Regions from separate parts of the Homo sapiens genome. Here region 1 is linked to region 2. The links come from fine-mapping of genetic effects on gene expression. Tissue or cell type: whole blood. Region 2 holds a variant in brackets; the other region holds the start of a gene. All regions are shown on one strand. Distances are between the middles of the regions.

The links.
Region 1: it holds the start of FBXO21, and the variant in region 2 is fine-mapped to the expression of FBXO21 in whole blood (TOPMed, PIP above 0.99).

What each region holds. Positions count from the first base shown.
Region 1 is chr12:117,187,498-117,192,876 of GRCh38, reverse strand. It overlaps FBXO21 (F-box protein 21), which reads left to right and starts at 2,407. Exons shown (of 12, transcript NM_015002.3): 1 at 2,407-2,659; 2 at 3,515-3,650. The coding sequence starts at 2,421. RefSeq lists silencers at 2,191-2,250, 2,291-2,390, 2,671-2,720 and an enhancer at 3,191-3,280.
Region 2 is chr12:117,152,820-117,158,198 of GRCh38, reverse strand. It overlaps FBXO21 (F-box protein 21), which reads left to right. Exons shown (of 12, transcript NM_015002.3): 10 at 136-326; 11 at 2,251-2,408. Among named protein-coding and RNA genes, the nearest start is that of FBXO21, 35 kb to the left of the region's middle. RefSeq lists a silencer at 2,739-2,918. The variant G/A (reference allele first, on the strand shown) is at 2,119.

The DNA of each region.
Region 1 (5,379 bases), 35 kb before region 2:
CAGGCTGGAGTGCAAAGGCATGATCTCGGCTCACTGCAACCTCCACCTCCCTGGTTCAAGCGATTCTTCTGCCTCAATCTCGCAAGTAGCTGGGATTACAGGCACCTGGCATCATGCCCGGCTAGTTTTTGCATTTTTGTAGAGATGGGGTTTCACCATGTTGGTCAGGCTGGTCTCGAACTCCTGACCTCAGGTGATCTGCCTGCCTTGGCCTCCCAAGGTGCTGGGATTACAGGTGTGAGCTACCGCATCCGGCTCAAGGATTTTTTCTATACCAGCCACTGTTCTATGCCCCTCACATGAATTTCCTCATTTAATTCTCATGACAGCCCCAGGAGACAGGCATTATTATTATTAATTATTATTCCCATTTTACAGATAAAAAACTGGGCCTCAGAAAGGCTAAGTAACTTCCCTAGTCAAACAGCTGGTTAGACTATCGCAATCAATAGATAATTGAGAATCTGCTCTGTGCAGGGCATGGGTCAAGTAACTAGGCTTCTAGAGGTGACTCAGACACAGTCCTAGCACTGAACTCCCTTCAGATTTAGTGGGAAAGATGCATGTTGAATAGTTGTAAGTTAAGTAATTACAAGACTGCAAAATGCTGGGCAGGAGCCATATCTGGTGCTGGTGCTGGGGCGGGGGAAGGGAGAGCATTTGGAAAGGTTAAGCTGAGCCCTGGAGGAAGAGGAGGAGCTACTGGAAGGGGAGGACTGCATGAAGTGCCTTGCAGGCAGCAGGAATAGTATATGTAGGGCCAGAAATGGGAGGAAAGAGATGACCAGCCTTGCTGGGGTATGCATGGCTAGTGAGAGAGAAAGACTTCAGATAGGTAAGAAGAGGTGGAGTTTGTTGCTTTGCAACAATGTTTGGGATGTCACATTCATTTCTACGGGAAATAGGGAGCCACAGATGGCTCAACGCCATCCATTGAGAGTCACTTTACTAGTTCAGCTCTCTCAGGGCATCTTGATTTCCAAGTTGCCAGGAGTACTTCATTGGACCCTCCATGTACTGACAACAGATCCTTCTAACTGTAATTGCACTTTGAGGTTTTGAAGCAAAGACTCCATTTTTCTCACCCCTGTATCCCCAGGGCACACAACACAGGGCTTTGGCACTGAACTAAACTGATTTTTTTTTTTTAATGTGCAGATCCTGAGACTACCCTCCCAATCCTGAGTGATAACTCCCGCTTTGAAGACTCAAATCCAGGCTTTAGCACTTTTGTCTCTGTAACTTTGAACCAGTGACTGCCACCTGGAAGAACTTTGCCTTTTCTGTAGAATAGGTATAACTGTGGTACCTATTGTGGGAGGTCAGACTATGCTCCCCAAATATGAAGGATTGTTGAGCTGGAAACAATTAAGAAACCAGTACAGGAGAGCTCTCTGCCTGCCCTCTATTAGCCTAAAATCAGGGCACACATTTGAGGATTATTATTACTCCCCTACACCATCATAGAGGGCTTCCCATAGCACCCACTCAAGAATATTGTTATTATTACATCATATGGTTAAGATTACTGACAAGCAAAAGTCAAGTGGATCTGAAATAGAATCCAAGACAAGGGGCTGGGCGCGGTGGCTCACGCCTGTAATCCCAGCACTTTGGGAGGCCGAGGTGGGTGGATCATTTGAGGTCAGGAGTTCGAGACCAGCCTGACCAACATGGTGAAACCCTGTCTCTACTAAAAATACAAAAATTAGCTGGCTGTGGTGGCGGGCGCCTGTAATCCCAGCTACTCGGGAGGCTGACGCAGGATAATTGCTTGAACCAGGGAGGTGGAAGTTGCAGTGAGCCGAGATCACGGCCACTGCACTCCAACCTGGGTGGTGGCGCGCGCCTGTAATCCCATCCGCACGGGAGGCTGAGGCAGGAGAATCGCTTGAACCCAGGAGGCAGAGGTTGCAGTGAGCCGAGATAGCGCCACTGCCCTCCAGCCTGGGTGAGAGCAAGACTCCTTCCCAAAGGGGGAAAAAAAATCCAAGACAAGGGATCCTGAGCAAGCCCTCTCACTCTCCGAACCTGTTTCCCCATCTGTAATATGGGGAGAAAGTTCGCAGGGTAATTCGGAAAGGTCCAATGCGCACAGAAAGCGCTCAGCACGCGTGAGAATAGATACCATTTTTATTTGTTAATTTTAAACATTAATTACGTTTAAAAGAATCAGTGCTACTATTGTTGTCCCGGACTAGAGGCGGCTTGCGCTGCCGGCTCCAAGCACAGAGCCCAATTATGTCCTCCCTTTTGCGGCGCTGCCACCCGCGCAGCCCCCAGCCGATGCAGGGGAGGTGTGGCCCGCGGATGGGCGGAGCGATCTCAGGACTCGCCCCCAAGACCAGTAGGCGGGGCCAGGCGGGGCGCCCGGGCACTCTCGCACGCGCGCGCGCGGCGGCCCCAGGTACGCGGACAAGATGGCGGCGGCAGCAGTCGACAGCGCGATGGAGGTGGTGCCGGCGCTGGCGGAGGAGGCCGCGCCGGAGGTAGCGGGCCTCAGCTGCCTCGTCAACCTGCCGGGTGAGGTGCTGGAGTACATCCTGTGCTGCGGCTCGCTGACGGCCGCCGACATCGGCCGTGTCTCCAGCACCTGCCGGCGGCTGCGCGAGCTGTGCCAGAGCAGCGGGAAGGTGTGGAAGGAGCAGTTCCGGGTGAGGTGAGCCAGCGGCCCCGCGCCCCGGCTGCGCGCCCACCGCCCCGCGCCCCCCGGGGCCGGGCAGCCGCCCCGCTAGCTCCCCGCGGCCGCCCCGCGCGCGGACCCCACCCCGGACCCCTTCCCGCGGACAGACAGACAAAGGCCTCCAGGCCCCGGACCCTGCGGGGCCACGCCAGGCGGACCCCCGGGTCCCCAAATGGCGCATCTAGGAGCGCCTCGCAGCCGGGTCCTCCGTCAAGGGTGACGCTGGCGGCGGCGCGGCTCGTCCCTTTTGCGCGCTTCTTTTGTGCCCGACTTCGGGCTGAAATGTTTACATGGACCCAGTGATGCATCGATCGGGCGGGCGCAGCATCCCCGGGCTGGTTGTGGACGGCACAGATTTCAGCGTGGCCCCAGGATGAAATCTGGCCCTGCACACTCCCTCTGTGACCTTGGGGGGAGCGACTTCCCTTTTTTTGAGCCTCGTTCATAGACTTTGAGTGGTGGTGATCATTAGACCTACCTTTCACCGTGTTTATTAAATTAGATGATGTCCGGGAGGCACGCACGCAGGGCCCCGGCTCCTAGGAGGCGCTCAATCAGTGCTCACTGTCATTGTCATTATTATTATTGTTGTTGTTGTTACAACTGTCCCCATTTTAGAGATGGGGAATGGAGACATCATTCATGCCGCTACGCCAAGGTCACACCGGGAGTGAGTGAGTGAATGCTGGTGGGGTTTTGAACTAGGTCTCTCGCCGGGGTCCCTCTTACCACTGGACGCCACTGCTGTCCCTGTTTCCAAGGCTGCCTTGGATTCGTGGCCGCCTGCCTTTGAGTTTCTGTTAAGCTGAGGGGGTGTTTCTCTCCTCGTAGGTGGCCTTCCCTTATGAAACACTACAGCCCCACCGACTACGTCAATTGGTTGGAAGAGTATAAAGTTCGGCAAAAAGCTGGGTTAGAAGCGCGGAAGATTGTAGCCTCGTTCTCAAAGAGGTTCTTTTCAGAGCACGTAAGGATCTGTTGATGTGGCTCTAAGCTTTGGCTTGCTGGTGTATGTGTCTGGGTCTGCAGGCATGAGCTCATCCAGCTCTTTTCGTATCTCCCTTTTCAATGCTCTCACAATCCCTTACTCACTTAGATGGCTGCAAGAGTCATTGTGTCCTTTTCCTCCTATCCAACAACACGAAGCCATTTGTCTGTGCCAGCTTTACTTTTCTAAAGCCAGAGAGAGAGTGGGGGTGGAGGGAGCAGGGAGGGACCCACGCAGCACAATGTAGACGGAGTCCAGATCAGCATTATTTCTCAAATGGGTTCAACGGATTTTTTTTGCAACCCCTCCGTTATTTGGGGAATCATCAATGATTGAACACTGTAAATTTCTCCCGGTTGTTTTCCCAGAAGGGTTGACGAAATTAATGTGGTTCTTCTCTCTGGCTTTGCAGGTTCTACCCAGTAGTGAACTGCATTATTTGTTAAGGTAACAGAGGATTAAAAGCTACCTATAAATCAGAGTTATTACTCCCTGAAATGAATTGTCTTGCATTCATTATCCCTGAAAAGTTTTTGGGTTTTTTTTTTTTTTTAAGTATTGCAGAAATACATGGTGGGTTTTTTTTGTTTTGTTTTGTTTTGTTTTCTTTTTTTCTTTCCTCAAAATGTCTCATGGAAGTTTCTTTCTTTTTTCTTTTTTTGAGACAGAGTCTTGCTTTGTCTCCCCGGCTGGAGTGCAGTGGCGCAATCTCAGCTCACTGCAACCTCCTACTCCTGGGCTCGAGCAATTCTCATGTCTCAGCCTCCCGAGTAGCCGGGACTACAGGCATGCGCCACCATACCTGGATAATTTTTGTATTTTTAGTAGAGTTGGGGTTTCACCATGTTGGTCAGGCTGGTCTTGAACACCTGGTCTCAAGTGATCCGCCGGCCTCTGCAAACCAAAGTGTTGGGATTACAGGCGTGAGCCACCGTGCCTGGCCTCACGGAAGTTTCTGTATCTGCCCCTGATCCCTTTTTGTAACTCTGGAAAATAATCCACACTAATGTTTTGAGTTCAACAAACTATTCGATATTTATTTCTGGTTGGGGTTCTAGAAATAGAGCCAATCTGATTTATTTCACTTTTTTGTTTTCCTAAAGACTCCTTTGGATTCTCTAATTTTAATTACTGTTAGTTAATGGAGTTAATAATTTGAAATGTTTTCAAGGCTTTTCAAGTTTTGAAAGGGAAAATTTGAACTTTGGACAAATTTGAATGTTTTCCCCTATGGAGAATACAAATAGACATTCCTTAGTGTAATTGGTTTCTATAAATATTTATTAGTGTTAGAATAAACAAAATTTGTATTTTACTTTGGAGAAGCCATGCCCTGGCTAAAAGCATTCATAATCACAAATTGTAAATGCTGATCTGAATGTGTTTGCACATACGTAGATTTTGGTACTAGCTATGTTTGGTGCAGTTGGTCATGGACTATGAGCCTGCAACCTCCATTTCTAGTCCAGCTGGTTTTGTGTATGTTTTGAACAGTCTGTGCCTCTGTGTAATAATGATGGATTGTTGTGTTTTTTCCTCAGCTCCCCCTTTTCCTGTACCACTGCTTAATTAGAAGTATGTCAAGGACTTTGAACACAGCGGGAGCATACTTAACATTAATCTGTGGGTGGGTGATTGCTTTGGCCCGGGATCTTGGCGTTCCTGTGTTCTCAGAATGCACACAGGTTGACCTGAAATGTTCTGGCTA
Region 2 (5,379 bases):
TTCGATCAGGGCATAGCCACCCCTTTTGGTCCTTTGCTTTGTTAGGTTACGTAGGTAGGTCTAAATCCCTCGCCGCAAAAAAGAAAAGGCCTAGCTGAAAATATTATCTTTTAGTCTTTCTGTCTTGTTTTGAAGGTGCTTGACATCCTCCAGCACATCCAAACCCTAGACCCGGGGCAGCACGGGGCGGTGGGCTACCTGGTGCAGCACACTCTAGAGCACATTGAGCGCAAAAAGGAGGAGGTGGGCGTAGAGGTGAAGCTGCGCTCCGATGAGAAGCACAGAGATGTCTGCTACTCCATCGGGCTCATTATGAAGCATAAGAGGTGAGTGCCCGGGATCATCTGTCCTGCAGTGTCCGTTCCAGAGGGGCTGCAGAGACACACATGCACCTGGTGAGCCCCCAGGACACAGTGGAGGAGGAGCTGACTGGATCACTTATCCCCCGAGTGCGCACCGCGGGGAAGACAGAAAGCTGAACCTCTTTTTTTTTCTTTTTGAACCGTGTCTTTGACCTTTGTGTTTTTTAAGCAGCAGCTTACTTTCCTGAGAGATCTTCTAGTGTTTTTAGTGGCCTTTAGATGTTTGACCCTTCTCTGTGTGTGAGAACATGGAAGTAACTTTGTAAGACACGAGTTTTTTCTCTCATTTCCTCATTGTTCTTATATCTTGTCACTTAATCTCAGTCTCTTCAAATCCGATAGGCACTTGGTCTATTTACCAGGCAAAATTAAACTGTATCCAAAGTGATTGGAGCAGTTTACATCCCACCAGCAGGCTGGGAGCCTGGAGTTCCTATTCTCGCCTGGTGCTATTGCCAGACCTTTAAAAGTGTACTTACCTGAGAAAGGGCAAATAGTGTTTCACTGTGGTTTTAATTTCTGTTTCCTGGGTTACTAAACACGTTAAGGTTCTTTTCATATATTTACTGGCTATCCAAGTTCCAAATTTCCTTTTATTAAGCGCCTATTCAAACATTTCATTTTTCTTTTCTTTTTTTCTTTTTTTTTTTTTCTTTGGAGACAGTCTGGGTCTGTTGCCCAGGCTGGAGTGCAGTGTTGTATCTCAGCTCACCTGCAACCTCTGCCTCCCAGTTCAAGCGACTCTCATGCCTCAGCCTCCCAGGTAGCTGGGACTACAGGCGCACACCACCACGCCTGGCTAATTTTTTGTGTTTTAGTAAAGACAGGGTTTCACCATGTTGGCCAGGCACGTCACTAACTCCTGACCTCAAGTGATCTGCCGTCTCAGGCTCCCAAAGTACTAGGATTACAGGCGTGAGCCACCACACCCAGCCCATTTCGTGTATTTTTTTCTATTGAGTTATTAGTCCTCCCTAATATGATATGTAGTTGTTCTTCTGTGTATCAGTATCTACATGACGATAAGTTGCAAATATCTTTTCCCAGTTTTTGGCTGGTGGTTTTCATTCTTTATTGCATTTTTTTAAACTTTTAAATGGAAATTTGCAAAGATTTATAAGAGAGAAAGGACTATAAGGAACCAGGTGGTGTTCCTGTCATCCAGCCTCAACAGCTGCCATACGGGGTGAATCTTACTGTCCCCTGCACCCTCCAGACCTTCCTCCCTGGGTTAATTGACGCAAGTGCCAGATGCCATTTCACCTGTAGCGATTTCAGTATGTACCTCTAAAAGGCAGGGGTGCTCTCTCCTTCTCTGTCTTTTCATATTTAACATCTTATTATCACATCTAGAAAACCCCAGTTCCTTAACTTCATGCAGTATCTAATGAGAGTTCCTATTTCCCCAGTTGTCTCATATTTTTACATGTTTGGATCAGGATTTGTTAGTCTCTTGGTTTTAGTGATGTCAGATTGGTTAGTCTTTTCCTTTACGGCTGTATTTTTAGTGCCTTGTTTTAACAAACCTTCCCTATCTTGAGTCATGAAGATACTTTCTATTTTAGAAGTTCTGCATTTAACACCTGAGTCTTTGCTGTACTGAGAATTGAATTTGGTGTGCTGTTGTCAGGCCAGGTCCCCATACCTTTTTCTTTTGGGTAACCAGTTGTCATCTAATCACTTTTTGTTGAAAAGTTTATTCTTTTCCAGATAAAGTGCTATGTTGATAATAAGAGGTGTTTATAAAAGGGGTTAG[G/A]GGTGTCCTGAAAAATGATTCACCGTGGAGTAAAGCAGGTAACTGAGGATGTGAGCTGAGAAGCCACGCGGTTGTCTGGAGGTTGTTGCGGCCGGGTCTGCAGGGACTGACTGCTCCTCCTGTGTTAACTAGGTATGGCTATAACTGTGTGATCTACGGCTGGGACCCCACCTGCATGATGGGACACGAGTGGATCCGGAACATGAACGTCCACAGCCTGCCGCACGGCCACCACCAGCCTTTCTATAACGTGCTGGTGGAGGACGGCTCCTGTCGATACGCAGCCCAAGGTAAGCGGCGGGTTCCGCTTGTGCCAGTGGCCCCGCGGGCGTGTTTTCAGCGCACGTTTGAGCCCTCGGGTAGGTACTGTGGGCGTGGGCCATCGGTTCCTTCAGAGGCGGCCGACGCCCCATGGCCGGCCTCCTTCGGGCCCACAGTCAGCTAAACGTGGCTGGGTCTGCACAGGTGCCGCCCTGGCGAGGGGTCAGTAGTCATACCCGCCCTCCCCCAGGGCCTCCGCTCCCACAGCCCGGACATCTGATTGGCCACTGTCTATGCCAATCAAATTCCTGTAAGTCCTGCCTCCTGGACCCTGCCCTCGGCTCCTCCCAGACTAGAAGGGAACCGGATGAACACCTGGGGGCCCCCTAGTGCTCCCTGGCCTCCCAAGGCTGTGGCTGCCGGCTGACGCCGGAGATGCCCTCGTGTGGCCACCTGTGGGAACTGCAGCCCACTGCGCCGGCCCTGGGAGCACCTGAGAGCCCGCAAGTGTACAGTAAGGTTGGGTAGGCGTCTGGGCCACTGCCGCCCCGGCAGGTGCCAGCCCAGGGCAAGGCTGAGGTGGAGACTGACAGAGCCTGTGGAAGCTGGTAAGAGACAAGAATGCCTTCAGTGTGAGTCTCCCTTCTCTTTGTTCCTGTTGAATTTCACCTCTACTTAATAGGATGAATTCAGTGTATGTCTGTCAAAGCATTCACATTGATTAATTAATAATTCACATTTATTAATAAAAATGAATGTGAATGCTAATGTAGTGCCATTCTGTGACGGACATCATTCTAATGTATATTAACTCCATTTGAGAAACATCATCATCATCATTTTCTAGGTGAGGAAACTGAGGCACAGGGAAGCCATTGAGATTTTAACTTAGAGAACACGATTTGAAGCCAGGCAGCTTGACAGAGCCTCCTCTTCATCCATCATGCTGTACCTGCTCATGTCTGAGTTTTGACCTAACTCAATATTATGTTCTGATAAATCCAATAATCAAAATATGGGATGTATAAAAACCTCAGAACTTTCTGAAAGGCTGGAGATTGCCAGGTGAGGTGTCTCACACCTATAATCCCAGCACTTCGAGAGGGTGAGGCAGGAGGATTGCTTGAGCTCAGGAGTTGGAGACCAGCCTGGGCAACACAGCAAGACCTCATCTCTGCAATTTAAAAATTAACCAGGCAGAGTCATGTGCACCTGTGTTCCCAGCTACAACACAGCAAGACCCCATCTCTACAAAAAAATTTAAAAATTAGCCAGGCAGAGTAGTGTACACCTGTGGTCCCAGCTATTCAGGAAGCTGGGTTGGGAGGATCACTTGAGCCTGGGAAGTGAAGGCTACAGTGTGCTCTGATTGTGTTGCTGCACTCCAGTCTGGGTGACAGAGTGAGACCTCATCTTAAAATAAAAGGCTGGAAAATAATGATTATTGTCAGTTAATCAGAAACTGAAAGGATCCCCTGGAACAGCAGCATCAAGATAAATGTTTGTTGAAACTGCAGGTCGCTTGCCCTGTCTCAGTGTGATGGGGATGGTGTAAGGGGTTTCTGTGCTCCCTGTGGCAGATGGAGGCACCAACGGTAATGTTATTTAACTTTTGAAGCTGTGTCGAATATAAACAATCTCTAAAAATCAACACATGATTTGGACATTATTGACTGATTCACTGGGCCACTGGTGCCAGCACAAGTCACCTGGTAAACGCTTGATAGCCTACAACAAATGGCGTTCACAAGAATAAATGAGCATTTTCTTTTCAACAACACCGTGGGCCAGTGTCTATGGCTTTACCACATGGCATCATTATTCACTGTTTAGGGTTGGTCTTAAGTATTTGGTTTTAGGGGTTGTGATATGTTCACTTCAGAAGTTGATCTCTAATCATATCTAGGTAAACATGCAATGTAAGGTTTAGTCATAAAATTGTCATTACTGAAAAAATTAATATCTGCTTGTTGGTTTTACCATCTGTTAAATTGAGATGGAACTAAATGATGGGTAATGTTAGCAAATTGGCTTCTTGAATTTAAAACGTAGAACTTCAAAGCTGTTCCTACACTATGAGAGTTCCCGTCTTCTGCCGGCGGCTCCATCAGCGCTGTGTCAGCAAGCGCTTCCTGAGGGACTCGGAGTCCTGGGCCAAGGGGCAGATCTCCCCCAGCATGCCTGATACGTGGCTGTCTTCAGGGTCCTCCCTCTCCAGGGGACTCTCCTCTAGGCCTTCATCTCCTTCCCCCTTGGGGTGTCTGTGGATGTGCTGGTGACTCCCAAAGCCGTGTTCTCTGGGCTCTTCTCTGGGCTCCGTGCCCACCTCTGTAACAGCCCCCGGGCATGTGTGCTTGGAGGGCTCTCAGGGGTCTTCTCTCCAACATTGTTACCCCGACTCACTGAACCCATTGTTTTAACTCGATTATCTCTGTAAAGAAAGAAAAAACATGAACTCATTGTGCCCCCATACCCCCCTTGCTCCTGCCTGCCCCATCTCACTAGTGACACCACGTGGGGGCCGTGTCTTGCTCTTCTCCCCTTGCCCTCGCGATACATCTGTCTACACACCCACTGCTGTCTCCTCATGTGTCTCCCATTTCCATTCTGGTGGTCTCTGCTTGCCTACTTCCTAACTGGCACCTGCCTCCCGGCCTGTCCCCAACCGGGCATTTTCCTTAGCAACAGCAAGAGGATCTTCCTAGCGTGTCCCTGGACCGGGCCACTTGCTGCTTGAATTGACTGACCATCAGGAGTTTCTCATCGGCAGGCAGTGCAGAATGCTTTACCAGGCCCTAGGGATCTGGCCTTCCCCTTACAGCCCCAGCACGGTTCCCACGCCTGACATACTCCAGCCCACTTCCGTTCATCTTCTTTGAAGTCATCATTCTTGCTCGCACGTGGAACAGTTAAAAGAATACATCAAATACCCCCATTTACCCTCTAGTCAATTCAACAGTAAATGATTCCCATATTTGCTTTATCTATAGAGATTTTACT